Regions from separate parts of the Homo sapiens genome. Here region 2 is linked to region 1. A link means that fine-mapping ties the variant in region 1 to the expression of a gene that starts in the linked region. Tissue or cell type: nucleus accumbens. Region 1 holds a variant in brackets; the other region holds the start of a gene. All regions are shown on one strand. Distances are from middle to middle.

Evidence for each region. PIP is the estimated chance that this variant, and not a neighbour inherited with it, causes the effect.
Region 2: CFAP20DC-AS1 starts here. The variant in region 1 is fine-mapped to the expression of CFAP20DC-AS1 in nucleus accumbens (GTEx, PIP above 0.99).

What each region holds. Positions count from the first base shown.
Region 1 is chr3:58,784,951-58,794,450 of GRCh38, forward strand. The region is part of intron 15 of CFAP20DC (CFAP20 domain containing); the gene reads right to left. Among named protein-coding and RNA genes, the nearest start is that of CFAP20DC-AS1, 35 kb to the right of the region's middle. The variant A/G (reference allele first, on the strand shown) is at 4,542.
Region 2 is chr3:58,819,923-58,829,422 of GRCh38, forward strand. CFAP20DC-AS1 (CFAP20DC antisense RNA 1) reads left to right here and starts at 4,549. Exons shown (of 3, transcript NR_110820.1): 1 at 4,549-4,653. The region is part of intron 14 of CFAP20DC (CFAP20 domain containing); the gene reads right to left.

The DNA.
Region 1 (9,500 bases):
ATCAGTATATCAAAGGGATACCTGCACTTACCTGTTTATTGCGGCACTATTCACAATAGCAAAGATAAGGAATCAACCTAAGTGTCCATCAACGAATGAATGGATAAAGAAAATATGGTATACATACACAATATACTATTGTTCTCTTTTATGGCTGAATACTATTATTGTCTTTGCAGCAACATGGGTGGGACCAGAGGTCGTTATGTTAAGTGAAATAAACCAAGCACAGAAAGACAAATACCTCATGTTCTCACTCATATGTGAGAGTTCAAAAAGTGGATCTCATGGAGGTAGAGAGTAGAATGATAGATACCGGAGGCTGGGAAGGCTGTGTGGGTAGGAGCGGGGATGAAGACAGGTTTGTTAATGGGTATAAACATACAATTAGATAGAAGGTATAAATTCCAAAGTTTGATAGCAGAGTAAGGTAACTATATTTAGCAAAAATGTATATGTCAAAGTAGCTAGAAGGGAGGACTTGAAATGATACCAACACACAGAAATGATAAATATTCAAGATGGATACCCCAAATATTCTGTCTTGGTCATCACACATTCCATACATGTAACAAAAGATCATATGTACTCCATAAATGTAAAATATTATGTATCGGTTTAAAACAGAAAAAAAACTATCTTTTTACCCACCAGAAGGATACACATAGAATGAAGACCTCATCTCTGATAAACACAGCATCATTGAAGATGTAGGGGAAGTAACTGCCTCCCTCCCATAACGGGTTTGCTTCATATGGAAGGAAACCAAAATATGTCCCCCAAAATATGCTTCCGTGACCTAAAAATTGTTTTCGAGCCAAAGGCAATTAAGAAGAAGCAAACACAGGAAAAACTCTCTCTACTTTCCCTCTTATCTGCCTAAAGACAGGATATCAAGTCTCCTTTACTGGAGACAACTCTAGACTTTTAGGAGCTCAGAGATGGCCACAGAGGAATCTGCAAGGAAACCTCACTCCATTGGTTTCCTCCCATATATTTACCTTCTCACAGTTTCTGGCCCTTGAAAGCCAAAAACTGCTTACATTTGTCCTGTTGTTTCTCCACAAATGTACTGTTCTTTGTGAAAGATGTTACGTAAGCCAGAGTTCTAAGCCACTGCTTTGAGTTACTTTTCATTGAGGTTTCTCCCACAGGATGTGTGCTGCAAATGTTAATAAACTCGTTTTTCTCTTGCTAATCCTTCTTTTATTACAGGGTCCATCCCAACTAACAACTCATGGAGGTTGTAGAAAATTATATTTCCTCCGTGGTGATATCTTTGAAAACATTAAGAAAATTACTTGAATGCCTGCTCTATCCCACTTTATATTTGTGTTCTAGGTATTCACAAGAGTGGTATCAAAAACACAGAGTCTCTGCTCCCATGGAGCTTACAATCCAGAGATGGAGGCAGACAGTAAATACAGTAGTCCCTCCTTGTCCTTGGTTTTATTTTCTGTGGTTTTAGCTACCTGAGGTCAATCATGGTCCAAAAATATTAAATGGAAAATTTCAGCAATAAACAATTCATAAATTTTAAATCAAGTACTGTTCTGAATTTGTGAAATCTTGTGCTGTCCCTGTCTGTCTTGTCCCAGACCTGAATCCCTTTTCTGGTGTATCCACACCCATTAGTTTCTTAGTAGCCGTCTCCATTATCAGATCGTCCGTGATAGTATCACAGTGCTTGTGTTCAAGTAACTCTTATTTTACTAAATAATGGCCCCAAAGAGCAAGAATAGTGATGTTGGCAATTAAGATATGCCAAAGAGAAGCTTCAAAGTGTTTCCTTTAAGTAAAAACCGCAAAAGTTCCCGACTTAATAAGGAAAGAAAAAAATCATATACTGAGGTTGCTAAGATCTATGGTAAGAATAAATCTGTGAAGTTATGAACAGTATATTACTATAATTGTTCTATTTTATTATTATTCTTGTTAATATCTTACTGTGTCAATTTATAAATTAACTTTATCATAGGTATGCATATATAGAAAAAAATATAGCATATATAGGGTTTGGCACTATCTGTCGTTTTAGACATCCACTGGAGTCTTGGAATGTACCCCCTGTAGATAAGGGGGGGCATTACTGTAAATATACAAAGAAAGAATATTATTTCAGATAGAAAACAGTGCTATAAAAATATAAAAGTAATTTTATATAAAAGTAATTTTAAAAATAAAAAGATTTGATGAGTATTTCTTATTAACAGCTCTAGCACAGAGTAACGCTGATACAAGATTTCATAAAAACTCCAATTCATCATTCTCAGTAAACTATCGCAAGAACAAAAAACCAAACACTGCATATTCTCACTCATAGGTGGGAATTGAACAATGAGATCACATGGACACAGGAAGGGGAACATCACACTCTGGGGACTGTTGTGGGGTGGGGGGAGGGGGGAGGGATAGCATTGGGAGATATACCTAATGCTAGATGACGAGTTAGTGGGTGCAGCACACCAGCATGGCACATGTATACGTATGTAACTAACCTGCACAATGTGCACATGTACCCTAAAACTTAAAGTATAATAAAAAAGAATAAATTAAAAAACCAACAAACAAACAAACAAAAAACTCCAATTCATTGTGTTAATTAGTTCAACCATGGTGGAGGACAGTGTGGCGATTCCTCAAGGATCTAGAACCAGAAATACCATTTGACCCAGCAATCCCATTACCGAGTATATACCCAAAGGATTATAAATCATTCTACTATAAAGATGCACATGCATGTTTATTGCAGCACTATTTACAATAGCAAAGACTTGGAACCAACTCAAATGCCCATCAATGATAGAATGGATTAAGAAAATGTGGCATGTATACACCATGAAATACTATGCAGCCATAAAAACGGATGAGTTCATGTCCTTTGCAGGGACATGGATGAAGCCGGACACCATCATTCTCAGCAAATTAACACACAAACAGGAAACCAAACACTGCATGTTCTCACTCATAAGTGGGAGTTGAACAATGAGAACACACAGACACAGGGAGGGGAACATCACACACTGGGGCCTGTTGGGGGGTGGGGTGCTAGGGGAGGGATAGCATTAGGAGAAACACCTAATGTAGATGATGGGTTGATAGGTGCAGCAAACCACCATGGCATGTGTATACCTATACATATATAACAAACCTGCATGTTCTGCACATTTGTCCCAGAACTTAAAGTACAATTTAAAAAAAAAAAAGAGGAAGAAAACACTAAAAAACAAAGCAAAACAAAACAAAACTCCAACTCACTGCATACAGACAGATTCTGAGCACGCAGTGAGAAAGGGAACCACAGCATGGTTGATTTGGGGCCGTCTATTGGAGATGGATGTTTCTAATATAATGGGCCCCTCAGATGAACAAATTAAATTCACATTTAAACCACGGTTACCGGGGAAATCCTATTGGTGAGAATCCACAGACATTTTTGAGCTTCTAATGTGGACAGCGCTGTATGAGAAGTAATGGGGAGCAAATGGGGAATCAACGAGAAAAATTTCTTACCTTTAGTTTATCACCTCAACTTCTAGCACGACTTTCCTAAATCTCAGCAAGACGTGGCTGGTCACAAAATGGGATGCTAACATATTCCCGTGCTGCATGTCTGGATGAACACATGGCTAGGCTGGGATTGTAGCAACAGCAATGACTACCACCACCACAGTGGAAAACACTTTGACAATCCAATGTGGAACTGTATATTAGACACACATTTAGGGCACTAATCTAGTATATAAATTGCACAGTTTTTAATCTCAGCTTAAACTTCCTTTTAGCCTTGTGACCTTTGAGCCAAACTCTGTGTCTCTTGTTTCCACATCTGGAATATGGGAATAAGAGAACTGACCCTACTGGGTTGTAGCAGGGATTAAATAAACTAGTCATCCCTCAGTAGGAGTGGGGATTAGGTTTCAGTTCCCCCTCCCCACATATACCAAAATCCTCAAGTTGGCCATGCAGAACCCACATATATGAAAAATGGGTTGGAAAAAATCTGTGTCATAATTTGTAAGGGAACCCATATAGTTCAAACCCATGTTGTTCAAGGGTCAACTGTAACATAAAATGTATCAATTCCACACAGTGGCACACAGTATAAAACTCACCACACAGTAATAGCATTAGTAGTTATTATTGTTTAAAATTACAGAAAAAAGTTCAATCCCAAGCAACTTTATATAACACCTTTTAGAGAGTTATAAGGCAACTGTAGGTTAAATGCTTTGTAACTAAGTCATTAGCAAATCAAGAGCAAAAAACTTTGCAGCCTTTTCTAACTTTAACGAGAGAATAATTGCCTTAAAATTAGAATACAAAATAAAACCATCCAAATCTTTCTGTGGAATGATGGGACTTAATGGTGCAGAAAGAGTAGGTGGGATTTAATTTAGTGCTTTAATTTAGCTCTCTGGGCTTTTGTAAAGAATAACTACAGGGTATCATTTTCATTATTGTGTCAGATTATCAGATACCTTATTTATGTACTGATTTCCATTTTCTTTTCAAAGTTTGGTTATACCTTTCTGTTCAGA[A/G]GTCAAATAAAACAATGATATGCTAAAAAGGCTCTGTGAGGTGAATGACAATTCAATTTCCCCCAGTGTTGGCTGGTTGCATGAGAAAATAAGGAACTGGAGCAAGTTGACAGGATCTTTAGTTGACTAGATTTATTTCCCAGCATTTTCAGGGTGTGTTAATTGTAACACTTCAGTTAATGAAAAATATTGTGATTAAACACTGATATGGGTGATAAATGGATTTTTGAACAGATGATGGTAAAATGCTATTTTAAAAACATTGGGAGGAAATAATAAAAACTCTTTTGTTGATTGGACCATTATTGTGAGTAAATTAGGCTTCCCAGGAAGGAAATAATTTACTCAAATCACCAGGCTACCATCATCATAATTATTCATGGTGTTACTGAGCTGCTATTCCACTTAAATATAGTCTCATTCTACAGAAAGCTTACATAAATTATAAAAAAGGTAGAAAGATACAGAAATGTTAAAATATTAGAAAAAGCAAACTATTTTAGACTAAGAATTATACCAATTATCCTTATTAACAATTATACTAATTATTCTTATTAATATTGATGTGTAATGTAAACAGAGAAAAATGCACAAATCATAGCTGTATGGCTCAATGAATGATCCCACAGTGAGCCATAATCCCCACCTGGGTCAAGAGGTAAAAGCGTCCCTTCCTCCTTCTTCTAATTATTACACTCTCTTCTCCCTACAAGTGAGCCTGGTGACTTCTAATACCCATGGCTCAGTTTGTCTGTTTTTGAATTCCATATGAATGGAATCATACAATATGTATTTATTCTCAGTTGTATATCTTTGATATGGACCGGAGACAGGGAAATAATGGGTAGAAGAGGGTGGTTCCCTGGCAAAGGCCCCACTCTCAAGCCTGGAAACCTGTGGCCCTAAATGGGAACAGGCATTCCTGTTTTCTCGCCCAAAAGTTGCCATTTGGCCTGCCATGTCCCCTATCATGTACCCATATAAACCTCAAACCCCAGGTTCCATGAGCAGATGAACAGAAGAGCAGAAGAGCAGCAGAGAAGGAGAGGAGTAGTGGTGAAAAGGACATGTGGATCCATGGAGGCTACTTAGAAGGCTATAGCAATAGTCCAGGAGAAAGATGGTGATTTTTTAGGTGACCAAAAGCCAAATGTAAGACATTAGTGGGATATGGGAACTAAAACTATGAATGTGATTTAAGCAATGTACTATACTAGTCAATGGTGTAACTGTAGTCTGAACTCTTTGGATTACATCTAGATTATTGTGTTCATTTTAGAGAATTCCAATTTGATAAATTAAAAGGTATCCAAAGGACGGTGATTAGGACTATGCCAGGACCAGGAATGGCAAAATGGAGTTGGGACTGGAGTGAGAAAATGTGAGACTAGAGGAGAAAACAGAGCAACCCAGAAGTGATATTAAAAAATTCAAGAGGTATTTTATGAAAAGTGATGGTTCTACTTATTGTTCTGGAAACAGAACTAGGATCAATGGGAAGAAGCTATAGAGAAGCCTACATCAGCTCAGTATAAGGAAGATTTCCCATGGTTGGAGTTGCCCAATAATGGAATGGGCTGTCTTCTGCTGCACTGAGCCTGCTTCCCTGGCAGAGATGTGTAAAGTTTGAAGAGATGCTGGGTTAAATCATCTCCCTGATCTCATCAAACCCTTTAAGATTCTCTGATTCTGTTAAAGTATGATTTTTTTTGAAAAATTATTCCTAATATTACTATTAATATCCCTACCAATACTATCATCACTTTCTACCATTTAATAAAAATATATATGCCAGGCCCTATGCAAAACATGTTATGAGTATTATTTCATTTAATCTTTGCAATAACACTTTATGGTGGGTAGTAAAATACAATTCCTATTTTTAGATAACTTAATTGGGGCTTGGAGAGGTTAACTAATGTCATAAGGATATAAACCCAACCTTTTGATTCTAGAGACAGTTTTTTAAACTAGTGCATTATACCACCTCATGAAACCCCTTATTCTACTATATGCCAATTAATCTCATACTGAGTGAATAGTTTAACCAATTTTTAACATTCAAATATGAAAATATATGAAATGCTGTATTTCCAATGACAATGTATATTCAATGTCACAGTTAGCAACTGTGTCAGTCAGAATAAGGGTATGTTATGCTTGATAACAAAAAACCCTCAAATCTCAGTGACTTAAAAACAACAAATGTTAATTTCTTGCTCATGTTAAGTTTTTATAACAGATCATTATAGGGACTCTGTTTGTCACAGTCATTAAGTGACTGGGTTGACTGAACCACCATCATCTTGAATGTTTCTGGTCACAGTGTCAGAGGAAAAGATAATCTGGAAGGTTTCACACCTACAATGTAAATGTTCTTGCCAAGAAATAACGTAGGCCCTTATGCTCCTAATTAGTTGGCTAGAATTAGTTGGGTTAGTTGGCTCCACCCCCAAACAAGGAAACCTAGAAGTGCAATACAACCATGTACTTGGAATCTGGAGAGCTGGGAATATTTGGGGAACAGTGTCAGTAACTACTATAGACAATAAATCTTCAAGGATGTCAGAAAACATGCAAACAACTTTTGCTACATATATTTCAGAATTTCTACCAAGAATATAGACTATTCTCATTGTTTATTTACCCCAAGTTGAGAGAACGTTAGAAGAGAGGAAATCTAGAAAACATGCTGAATTCTGGTAAAGTTCTTCACTGTATATGTAAAATATAACTTGAATCATAATCATGTCTGGGATTCAAGCCCTGGACATGCCAAAGTAGTATATTTATTTGCGTTTGGGCTAGATACAAATGTTTAGATGGTAAATGCAGTATTTTACTCCGAGTTTCATTGTACCTACTTAAGTAAAGCCATTATTGGTGAATTGGGAGAAGAGAATACTAAACAACCCAAGCCTTACATTAGGTTTTGAATATTAAGATATTAGAATAAAAACTATTTCAATGCTTCATAGGAATTTTATTCTGAAAATCCTTGGCAAGGCAAGTCCATCACTGTCAAATTAACTACAAGTGTGCTATTAAAATCTCTATTTTACTTATATAAAAATATAAACCTCTTAAAAACTTTTACTTTCTGATAAATATTTGTAATAATACAAAATAAAATAAGTAATTCATCTTATTTCTTGCAGAGACTCTCAGAGTACTCAATTGAAATTTGAACTACTTTTATCTAGTATCTGTGACAAAATATAGTTGTTTTATTTATAAATACTCCATGAGTTCAACTACAAAACTAAAAACTGACAATGAAAATATAAAGACAAATCAGTGGCATCTTTGAAGCATTTCACTGGAAATGGCTGTTAGAAGATAAATTCTTGTTGTAAGTGATTTAAATGCTTGAAGAAAAAGTACATGTGGTGTTGGTATGCTAAAAATGTAATTAAAATGTATATTACAAATGCTAGTTTAGAGAAGAACTGATTTTAAAAGCCAATGATGTTTCCTGTAAGGGCACTGCTGTGGTATTTTATAATAGATGGTACCTTTTTCTAATTTGAAAGCTACATATTTTAATAGAGAATGGCCCAAAATGTTTTTAAGGTCAAACTGGAAATATGTTGATGATTTACAAAAATGTAAGCCAAGTGCTTTATTATATTATACTACCAGAGTGTTATTGTAGTTTAAAAATATCATTAAATCAGCACAAACCTGCACTTATCATTTCCTACACATTTTTCACACCAAGCTGCCTTCTGACTATGAGTAATCTGTTAATCTACTCTTCGCCTCACAATCCGTCAAAGTGACAGATTCATTCCTTTCCTAATACATAATATCTTCATTTACTGTATGCCTTGCTGCAACTTTCTTTTTTGCTAGCACTGAAATTTAGAAATTCACAAGCAAATTTAGAGAATGTCACATGGCTGGTTGTTTTTGTTTGCTTCCATTTCTTCTGTTATTCCAGCAAAAGAAACTAAAATTTTTCTGGACTTTTAATGTGAATTAGTAGTATTTCCAAAATGAAGGCAGTTTCAGGTTTCAATAGGAGTGTTGTTGAAAAGGTTGGAAGAGGGCAGATGGCAAAAAAAACAAAGTGCATCCTTCACCAAGTTAAAACACTGATCATAATGTAATTTTCTTTCAATGTTAGTGGCCAATGTATAGATTCTCACCCCCTACCCTCAACCCTTACTAAGGTGTCAAGGAAAAGATATTCTTTTGGTAGTTTAGAGATGAGCTGCCCCTCAACAAAAAATGTAGTTTCATTACCATAAATGTCACTGTTTAATTGAAAGCAATACTGTGATTTTACTTAAGCTGAGACTTTCATTTTATCGTAGTATTGAGATCAGACCAGGCCAGATCTCAGGTTTCTTGTTCACTGCTATTTTGATAATACAAATGGTTCCACTGCTTTAAAATTGTTCACTACTAATTCAACAGAAAATATTTTACTCTTCTTTTCTTGCAACAGATTACAGTTGCTTTTTAGTTTATTAGTTCTGCAAATAAAGAGAATCAAAGACTGAAAAATATGAGAGTATGTACAATTCTAACTCACTTACTTTCATCATAAATAAGCGATAACAAAGTACATTATCTACAAATCGCCATTTGGTCTCGCTTGTTACTGAGCCAGTGTCCACACAGTAATTCAAAGGTCACTACTGTTGTTAGCCTCAAAAGTCAAAAGCAAATAAGTTGTTTACCTCAAAATGTGGGAAGCTGCCTTCTAACCAGTCTTGTTTCAGAATATAGTTTTTTTTTCCCATGCCTACACCAAACATCCAACAGCATTTTCTTGTCCTGAGCACCAAATTGCATCTGATTTGTCTTAATGGATGGCAAAGGACCTAAAGGCTTTTAAAAATCAATGGACAAGAAAGAGTCAACAGAACAATAATGATAGTGTTAATTCAGTCAAATACACTAAAAGATGTTTGCCTTTTTGCCTTCAAGTCATCTTAAACAGCCTGGACT
Region 2 (9,500 bases), 35 kb after region 1:
ACATCAAAAAGCTTATCCACCATGATCAAGTGGGCTTCATCCCTGGGATGCAAGGCTGGTTCAATATACGCAAATCAATAAATGTAATCCAGCATATAAACAGAGCCAAAGACAAAAACCACATGATTATCTCAATAGATGCAGAAAAAGCCTTTGACAAAATTCAACAACCCTTCATGCTAAGAACTCTGAATAAATTAGGTATTGATGGGACATATTTCAAAATAATAAGAGCTATCTATGACAAACCCACAGCCAATATCATACTGAATGGGAAAAAACTGGAAGCATTCCCTTTGAAAACTGGCACAAGACAGGGATGCCCTCTCTCACCACTCCTATTCAACATAGTGTTGGAAGTTCTGGCCAGGGCAATGAGGCAGGAGAAGGAAATAAAGGGTATTCAATTAGGAAAAGAGGAAGTCAAATTGTCCCTGTTTGCAGACGACATGATTGTATATCTAGAAAACCCCATTGTCTCAGCCCAAAATCTCCTTAAGCTGATAAGCAACTTCAGCAAAGTCTCAGGATACAAAATCAATGTACAAAAATCACAAGCATTCTGATACACCAACAACAGACAAACAGAGAGCCAAATCATGAGTGAACTCCCATTCACAATTGCTTCAAAGAGAAGAAAATACCTAGGAATCCAACTTACAAGGGATGTGAAGGACCTCTTCAGGGAGAACTACAAACCACTGCTCAAGGAAATAAAAGAAGATACAAACAAATGGAAGAACATTCCATGCTCATGGGTAGGAAGAATCAATATCGTGAAAATGGCCATACTGCCCAAGGTAATTTACAGATTCAATGCCATCCCCATCAAGCTACCAATGACTTTCTTCACAGAATTGGAAAAAACTACTTTAAAGTTCATATGGAACCAAAAAAGAGCCCGCATCGCCAAGTCAATCCTAAGCCAAAAGAAGAAAGCTGGAGCCATCACACTACCTGACTTCAAACTATACTACAAGGCTACAGTAACCAAAACAGCATGGTACTGGTACCAAAACAGAGATATAGATCAATGGAACAGAATAGAGCCCTCAGAAATAACGCCACATATCTACAATTATCTGATCTTTGACAAACCTGAGAAAAACAAGCAATGGGGAAAGGATTCCCTATTTAATAAATGGTGCTGGGAAAACTGGCTAGCCATATGTAGAAAGCTGAAACTGGATCCCTTCCTTACACCTTATATAAAAATCAATTCAAGATGGATTAAAGATTTAAACGTTAGACCTAAAACCATAAAAACCCTAGAAGAAAACCTAGGCATTACCATTCAGGACATAGGCATGGGCAAGGACTTCATGTACAAAACAACAAAAGCAATGGCAACAAAAGACAAAATTGACAAATGGGATCTAGTTAAACTAAAGAGCTTCTGCACAGCAAAAGAAACTACCATCAGAGTGAACAGGCAACCTACAAAATGGGAGAAAATTTTTGCAACCTACTCATCTGACAAAGGGCTAATATCCAGAATCTACAATGAACACAAACAAATTCACAAGAAAAAAACAAACAACCCCATCAAAAAGTGGGCAAAGGACATGAACAGACACTTCTCAAAAGAAGACATTTATGCAGCCAAAAAACACATGAAAAAATGCTCATCATCACTGGCCATCAGAGAAATGCAAATCAAAACCACTATGAGATACCATCTCACACCAGTTAGAATGGCAATCATTAAAAAGTCAGGAAACAACAGGTGCTGGAGAGGATGTGGAGAAATAGGAACACTTTTACACTGTTGCTGGGACTGTAAACTAGTTCAACCACTGTGGAAGTCAGTGTGGCGATTCCTCAGGGATCTAGAACTAGAAATACCATTTGACCCAGCCATCCCATTACTGGGTATATACCCAAAGGACTATAAATCATGCTGCTATAAAGACACATGCACACGTATGTTTATTGCGGCATTATTCACAATAGCAAAGACTTGGAACCAACCCAAATGTCCAACAATGATAGACTGGATTAAGAAAATGTGGCACATATACACCATGGAATACTATGCAGCCATAAAAAATGAAGAGTTCATGTCCTTTGTAGGGACATGGATGAAATTGGAAATCATCATTCTCAGTAAACTATCGCAAGAACAAAAAACCAAACACCGCATATTCTCACTCATAGGTGGGAATTGAACAATGAGATCACATGGACACAGGAAGGGGAATATCATACTCTGGGGACTGTTGTGGGGTGGGGGGAGGGGGGAAGGATAGCATTGGGAGATATACCTAATGCTAGATGAGGAGTTAGTGGGTGCAGCACATCAGCATGGCACATGTATACATATGTAACTAACCTGCACAATGTGCACATGTACCGTAAAACTTAAAGTATAATAAAAAAAAATCATGAAAAAACAAACAAACAAACAAACAAACAAAAAAAACCAAACACCGCATATTCTCACTCATAGGTGGGAACTGAACAATGAGATCACATGGACACAGGAAGGGGAATATCACACTCTGGGGACTGTTGTGGGGTGGTGGGAGGGGGAAGGGATAGCATCAGGAGATATACCTAATGCTAGATGACGTGTTAGTGGGTGTAGTGCACCAGCATGGCACATGTATACATATGTAACTAACCTGCACAATGTGCACATGTACCCTAAAACTTAAAGTATAATAAAAAAAAAAAAGACTATACAGACTGATCCCTTTCCATCTTTGCTCATAGTGATTTTTAAGTGTTAGAAAACAAAAAAGTAACCAATGGAAACTTTTCAAATAAAAACTGCTGACACGAACACATAGAAAGGTGAACAACTAGCTGTCTGAGGCTAGACATCCTCACCTACAAATGGATATTGATGGAGTTCAGGACATGGCATTTACAGTAGCAGGAAGGTCACTCTCACCTTCTCCTGTTCTCCCCTGCAGCTGGTCATAAAACATAGCTAGGATTTTCTGAACACCCCCTGGAGCAGGTCATAAGATACTCATTTGAGAGATGCCGTCCCTATCCCCTGAAGAAAGGAACATCCTTATCTCTGAAGACACAGGGACACAGAGAAGAATCTGAACAAAAGCCTTGCTGATTTTCTTCGTTTATTTCCATTAGCTCATATCTCCTTTGCCCAATCATATTTCTCCACCACTTTCCTCTCTTCATCAAACCTGGAGTAAAAATATTCAAGTTTCACTGTTTGTTCAGTTCTTCATTTCCTTATAAAGACTCCTGTATCATGGAAAACTTACATGAAATAAATTTGTATGTTTTTCTTTTGCTAATCTGTCTTTTGTTGCAACAGAGGCCTTGGCGATGAATCCAGGGTGGGTGAGAAAAAGATATTTTTCCTCCCCTACAATATGCTTATAAACATATGTAGCAGTAAACCTATTTCTAGGTAGGTAGCATCCTGTGAAAGCACCAATGAAATAATATAGAATTTGTTTTGATTTTGGCATTCAGTCATACCTAGAGAATATCGTAAGTAGATGCAAAGGGATGACAACCAGTATCTACAATGAACTACGACCATCATCATAATAGCGGCGATTGACATTTATTGAGTACTTATGCTAATTCTTGGTAGATATGATCTTATTTGATCCTCAGAGCAATTCTATGAAATAAATAGGATGAACAACTACATTCAACAGAAGAGGAAATTGACACTGGGTATTAACCCAGGATCGTGCCTGCCAGGAAAGAGTGGAGCTAGAATGTGAACCCAGGCAGTCTGAGTCCACAGCTTACCCTCTCAACCACTAGTCTGTAGTGTTTATTCCAGCTCGAGAGTGCATCTAGAGTGGTGACTATTTAAGTTTTTGAATAACAAAATGACAAAATCAGTTCTGTTTGTGGCAGGAAAAAAAAGTGACCCTGAAGAAATACATTTATTTGAAATATATATGACTATCTCCTTACCATAAATTAATTTCATTGTTTTCATTCTCATGACATGTCACTATGTATTTACAATTTAAAAAATCAGTTTTGCCACGTTACTAAATTTGGGACAATCATAAAATGTAATAGACAGTACTCTGAGAATAAGAAAAGTTTATTTCCTGGGGTGACTTTCATAGTCACTAAACACAGAACAACTTGCACATTTCAATATTTCCTCCTGACAGTACAGATACTGTCTCTATTGTCACTATTACACTGACTCTAATATCAGTTTTCGTATATCATTTCTATAGTTGTATAAGAACATCTGCTCATATGATTTATCTGCAGCTTAGCACAATCAACTGCATACCTTTTTAGTTCAGGAGGATTAAAAGAAAACTCATTCTACCCAAAGAGAGCTGAGAAGTTAATGAATCTGTAGATCAGAACAAATTAAAACCTATTAATTATAAGGAGTCTGAAATGCCAATATATTATATTTTGAATACACAGCAACCAGGAATATCATGCAAAAACGCTGATATGCTGTGGAGCAAAGAAATGGAACAGATCCCAGAAACTCAGGACCTCGGCCTTTTGGTGGCGCTGTTGCTATGTGCTAGTGCCAGGAAAACAGTATTCATATATAATTAACTACCACGGAGCACAAGCAGCTTTGCTTTTCCATGATCAAGCTGCTAGAGATTTTGGGGTGAGGGAGCGAAATGAAGGCTAAATAAAAGAACCGGAGATAAGATAATCCTGCCATGTTAAAAGGTAAAGATAATATTTTTATGTTGTTATGTAAAACCTATGAAAATGGCGATAATGTTGCAAGGTTAATCAAGACCATAAATAACTTGTCTGAGAACCTCACCATATGCCTGCAGTTTTATTAAGTGTATTTTGCCTCGTTATTCTCCGAATATTATGCTCTGCAACATGCCATGTTGATGGATGCATGCAATGAGCTTTTCTTTTCTTTTTTGTAAGCTAAAGAGACTTATGTGCTTGATATTAGGTATGGGAATTCTTTTTTTTTTTTTTAAGAGATGGGGTCTCATTGTGTTACCCACACTGGCCTTGAATTCCTGGGCTAAAATCCTCCTGCCTTAGCCTCCCAATTAGCTGGGAATACAGACCTGTGCCACCATGCCCCCGTTCAGGTTATGTTAATTATTAACCTGAAGGAATGACAGCTTTGGGGCATCTGCTCACAGGGTAGCTGCACAATAAACCTACTTTTCTTGAATCTACATTTGAGGAGAGACAGTGAAATGAAATATTGAAATAATGAGATAATGAAGGAGTTTATTTGGAAGGATCTGAGGGAGTCAGTCTGTATGCTGATGGTTAAACTCACATCAAAACAAACACTACAGAATCTCTGCTTACTCTTTCAGGTCTCAGTCGTCATAAAAAGGGAAAATGTCCTAGAAATTCTGTTCTGATCACTCAAGTGGCCCTTTGAGGAGAATAACCTTGGGGAAACAGCAGTTGACAGTCAGTGTGAGCTTACTCTGCTAAGCACCAGGCACATGCATTTCATGTACTCATTCGATTTGCATAATGCCAATATTAGGAAGGTTCTTTTATTATTTCCATTTCAAAGATGATCATGTCCATAAATGGCAGAGCTGGAATTTGAGCCCAGGTTGACTGATCTAGAGTTTATATTTGTTTGGGCATCCCATGAAGCAGTGTCCATTGATAGCTGTTCCTGTTCCTTAAAAAAAGAAAACACACACACACACACACAACATGGCTTTATGCTATTGTCAATCAAAATCCCTCACCAAGATAAAATTCACTTAAAATTCATTATAACTAACTCCTAGTGCCCTTCCAAAGGCTGCCGAGAGCCCAGTTTTTGAATAAATCTCACGAGGGCTACTCCTAACAGAAACTCTCCAAAATTGATTGATTGTAGCCTGGTTTCCACAGAAGTTGTAAAGTATTGTTTTAATTGAATTTGGTTCTAAGTTAGAAACTTTGAAAAATTTGTCTGTCAAAGGCCAATGGATTTCTCAGTAGGCTTGATTTATTTAGCAAGAGATGCCTACAAAAGCCAATTTGCTATGAGGAATGTGGTTACATTTAATTACACTTTTAAATGACTAATTTGTTATATCTAAACACCTTTTAAACAGTACATATTACTCTGAACTGTACAGATGCTGAGGAATCAAAGTTTGTGTTAAACACAAAGGATTTTGCTAAAGACTCTTCATTTTACTCTGCGTAGGCTTTCTGGCTTCAGACTGCAATGTGTGTGAAGTCGTCAGGTAAAAATGCTAAACTGAATGGGACCGGACTACATCTTTTTCTTCCTATTTGCAATCAGGCCCTGCTCAGAAGGAGATTTTCCTTTGGGTGTATATTTAATATCCATTTATCAAATCTTGAATTGAAAATATTACATGCATCACTCAGGATTTATTTAAGCAAAGCAAAGCTGATGTTTATTTTGGAATCTTGACGAAAATTATTTTAGAGTAAAAAATGAATTTTTAAAAATTATACTTTAAGTTTTGGGATACATGGGCAGAATGTGTAGGTTTGTTACATAGGTACACATGTGTCATGGTGGTTTGCTGCACCCATCAACCCGTCATCTACATTAGGTATTTCTCCTAATGCTATCTATCCCTCCCCTAGCCCCCTACACTCCGACGGGCACTGCTGTGTGATGTTTCCCTCCCTGTGTCCATGTGTTCTCACTGTTCAACTCTCACTTATGAGTGAGAATATGCAGTGTTTGGTTTTCTGTTCCTGTATTAGTTTGCTGAGAATGATGGTTTCCGGCTTCATCCATGTCCCTGCAAAGGACCTAAACTCATCCGTAAACAAGGAATTTTTAAAAATATTATTGATTGATTCATTCAAGTAATGACTGACAACTAGCTGTGATGCCTTGTGCTAGCCTTTGTGCTCCAACACAGAAGGTATGAAAGAACACAGGCAGGGTTCTGCCTTCAAGGAATTCACAACCAGGCCTGGGGATAGTGGTAACAGTGGTTGGCTAATGTCATAAGTGCTGTAATTGAGCCAGAAGATAACAGGGACCCAGAGAGGGAAGCGAATAATTCTGTTCAGGGTGGGATGAGGGTTGGGGAGAGTTTCATGAAGCAGTGACAAGTGAGTTGGGGCCTTCAGAAATAAGCAAAAGGAGGGATAAACAGTCAGAGTACAGAGAATTTTAGGGGCAGTGAAACTACTCTGTATGATACTATAATGGTAGATACATGTCACTATACCTTTGTCTAAATCCATAAAATGCACAACACCAAGAGTGAACCCTGATAATGTGACAATGATGTGTCAATGGAGGTTCATTAATTGTAACAAATTACCACTCTGGTGGGGGACACTGATAATAGGGTTCGTCTCAATTTTGCTGTGAACCCAAAACGGCTCAAAACAATTATAAGTCTTTAATAAAAAATTAGCCAAAAACCAAAAAACCAAAACAGAAATTAAAGAGCCATTTTCTAAATAGAGAAGGAGCTGCCAGACAGAGAAGAGATGAGCATGGCCTGATCTGAACACAGGGCATGGCTCACCAACTGACAGCCAAGTTGACAGTGTGGCAGGAGCAGAGTGGCTCACTTGTGTGTATGTTGGGTGGGGGGTGGGTAGCGAGACAAGCAAAACTCATTTCAAGTGCTACGCAAGCTGACAGAGAAACGAAGGCACTAAGAGGAGGTTATCTTGCTAAAGGAGAGACTCCCCACTGTCCCCTCCACCACAGACTTAATTTGGCTTCCTTTTGGAACTTGGAATTCCAGTCCCCTCTTGTCTGCATGGTAAACTTGAACTCATTCTTGAACTTTGGCTTAACTGTTGTCTTCTCTGTGAAAGCATCCCTGAAACCCACATGCGGAATCACTCCCTCTCACGTGTTCCCATAACTCGTTATTCTATCACTTGCCACCCTGAGTTACAGTGAGCCGTTTACCTGGGCTTCCCCACCAAAACTGTGAATACCTCAAGCTTGGATAAGGCTTTATCTGTATCCTCAGTAGCCAGCCTAGTTCACAGCACATGTGTGCCACTCAAAAACATATGTGTGGAATGAGTGAATGTGAGACAGACAAGCAAGCTTGTGGTGAGAGTTATCAGGGAGATACTCCTGACTCTTGTGGCAGAGAAGGTGTATCCTTCACAACGAGGCCTGGAGAAGGGCTACAGTGACTTTAGAGCTAAGTCTTGAGGATAATCAGGTCCACGGTACAGGGATAATGTGCAGAGTGCATCTAGGGACTACAGAATGGAGTGAAAGGTGGGGTGCAGTGAGAGATGAGGCTGGAGAGAGGGCAAGTCTCAGATCATGGGGGCTCCTGTATGCCAAGGTAAAGAGGTGATGGGGAGTCACTGAAAGGCTTTACCTAATGAAGAGATCAGATCAGATCAGATTTGGGCTTTAGGAAGATCACTAATGTGAATAATAATGATAATAATAATGACAGCTAAACTTCATTTATTAAGTACTTATGTCTCAGATACAGTGCCAAGCATTTTATAAGGGTCACAGCTTGGATCTCAACCGTGGAAATTTGACGTCAGAGCTGAGGCTCCTAACCACCAGGTTACAGTGCTTTGACTGGAGGCACAGAGATGTTAGGGGACTATTGAAGGAATTCAGATGAAAAATAAAGTGCATAAACCATAAAAAAGAGTGAAATCATGTCCTTTGCAGCAACATGGATGCAGCTGGAGGCCATTATCCTAAGCAAATTAATGCAGGAACAGAAAACCAAATACTGCATGTTCTCACTTATAAGCAGGAGCTAAACATCAGGTACTCATGGAAATAAATATGTCAACAATAGAAACTGGGGACTGCTAAAGGAGAGAGGGAGGAAGGGGACAGGGATTGAAAAAGTAACTATTGGGTACTATGCTCAATACCTGCATGAATGAATCATTTGTACCCCAGTCTTCAGTATCATGCAATGTACCCTGGTGACAAATGTGCACATGTACCTCCTCAATCTAAAATAAATACTGAAAAAAAAAAGTGCATAATCTGTCATGGGATTAAGGGGAAAAAAGAAAAAAGGAAAAGTGCCAAGGCTGTGGTATTAGGAAGGGTGGGTTAAGAGATAAAAAGGAGAGAGGATTCTTAGGATTTGGAGACCAGCTGGATGTGGGATAAAGAAGCGGGAGAAATGAAGATGCCTTCCAAATTCCTGGCTAAAGGATCAATATGGATGTTGACATTATTCACTGAGATAAAAGAAGAGTGGGACAGGCCGGGCATGGTGGCTCACCTGTAATCCCAGCACTTTGGGAGGCCAAGGTGGGTGGATCATTTGAGGTCAGGAGTTTGAGACCAGCCTGGCCAACATGGTGAAATCCTGTCTCTACTAAAAATACAAAAAATTAGCTGGGCATGGTGATGGGTGCCTGTAATCCCTGATGGGTGCCTGTAATCCCAGCTACTTGGGAGGCAGAGGTTGCAGTGAGCCAAGATCGAGCCACTGCACTCCAGCCTGGGTAATAGGGTGAGACTCAGTCTCAAAAAAAAAAAAAAAAAAGGGATATTATTGTGATGAATAAAGTTATGAATTCTTTTATTTCTTCTTTTTCACTGTCCCTGTGCAACTTTTAAAGAGAAAGGC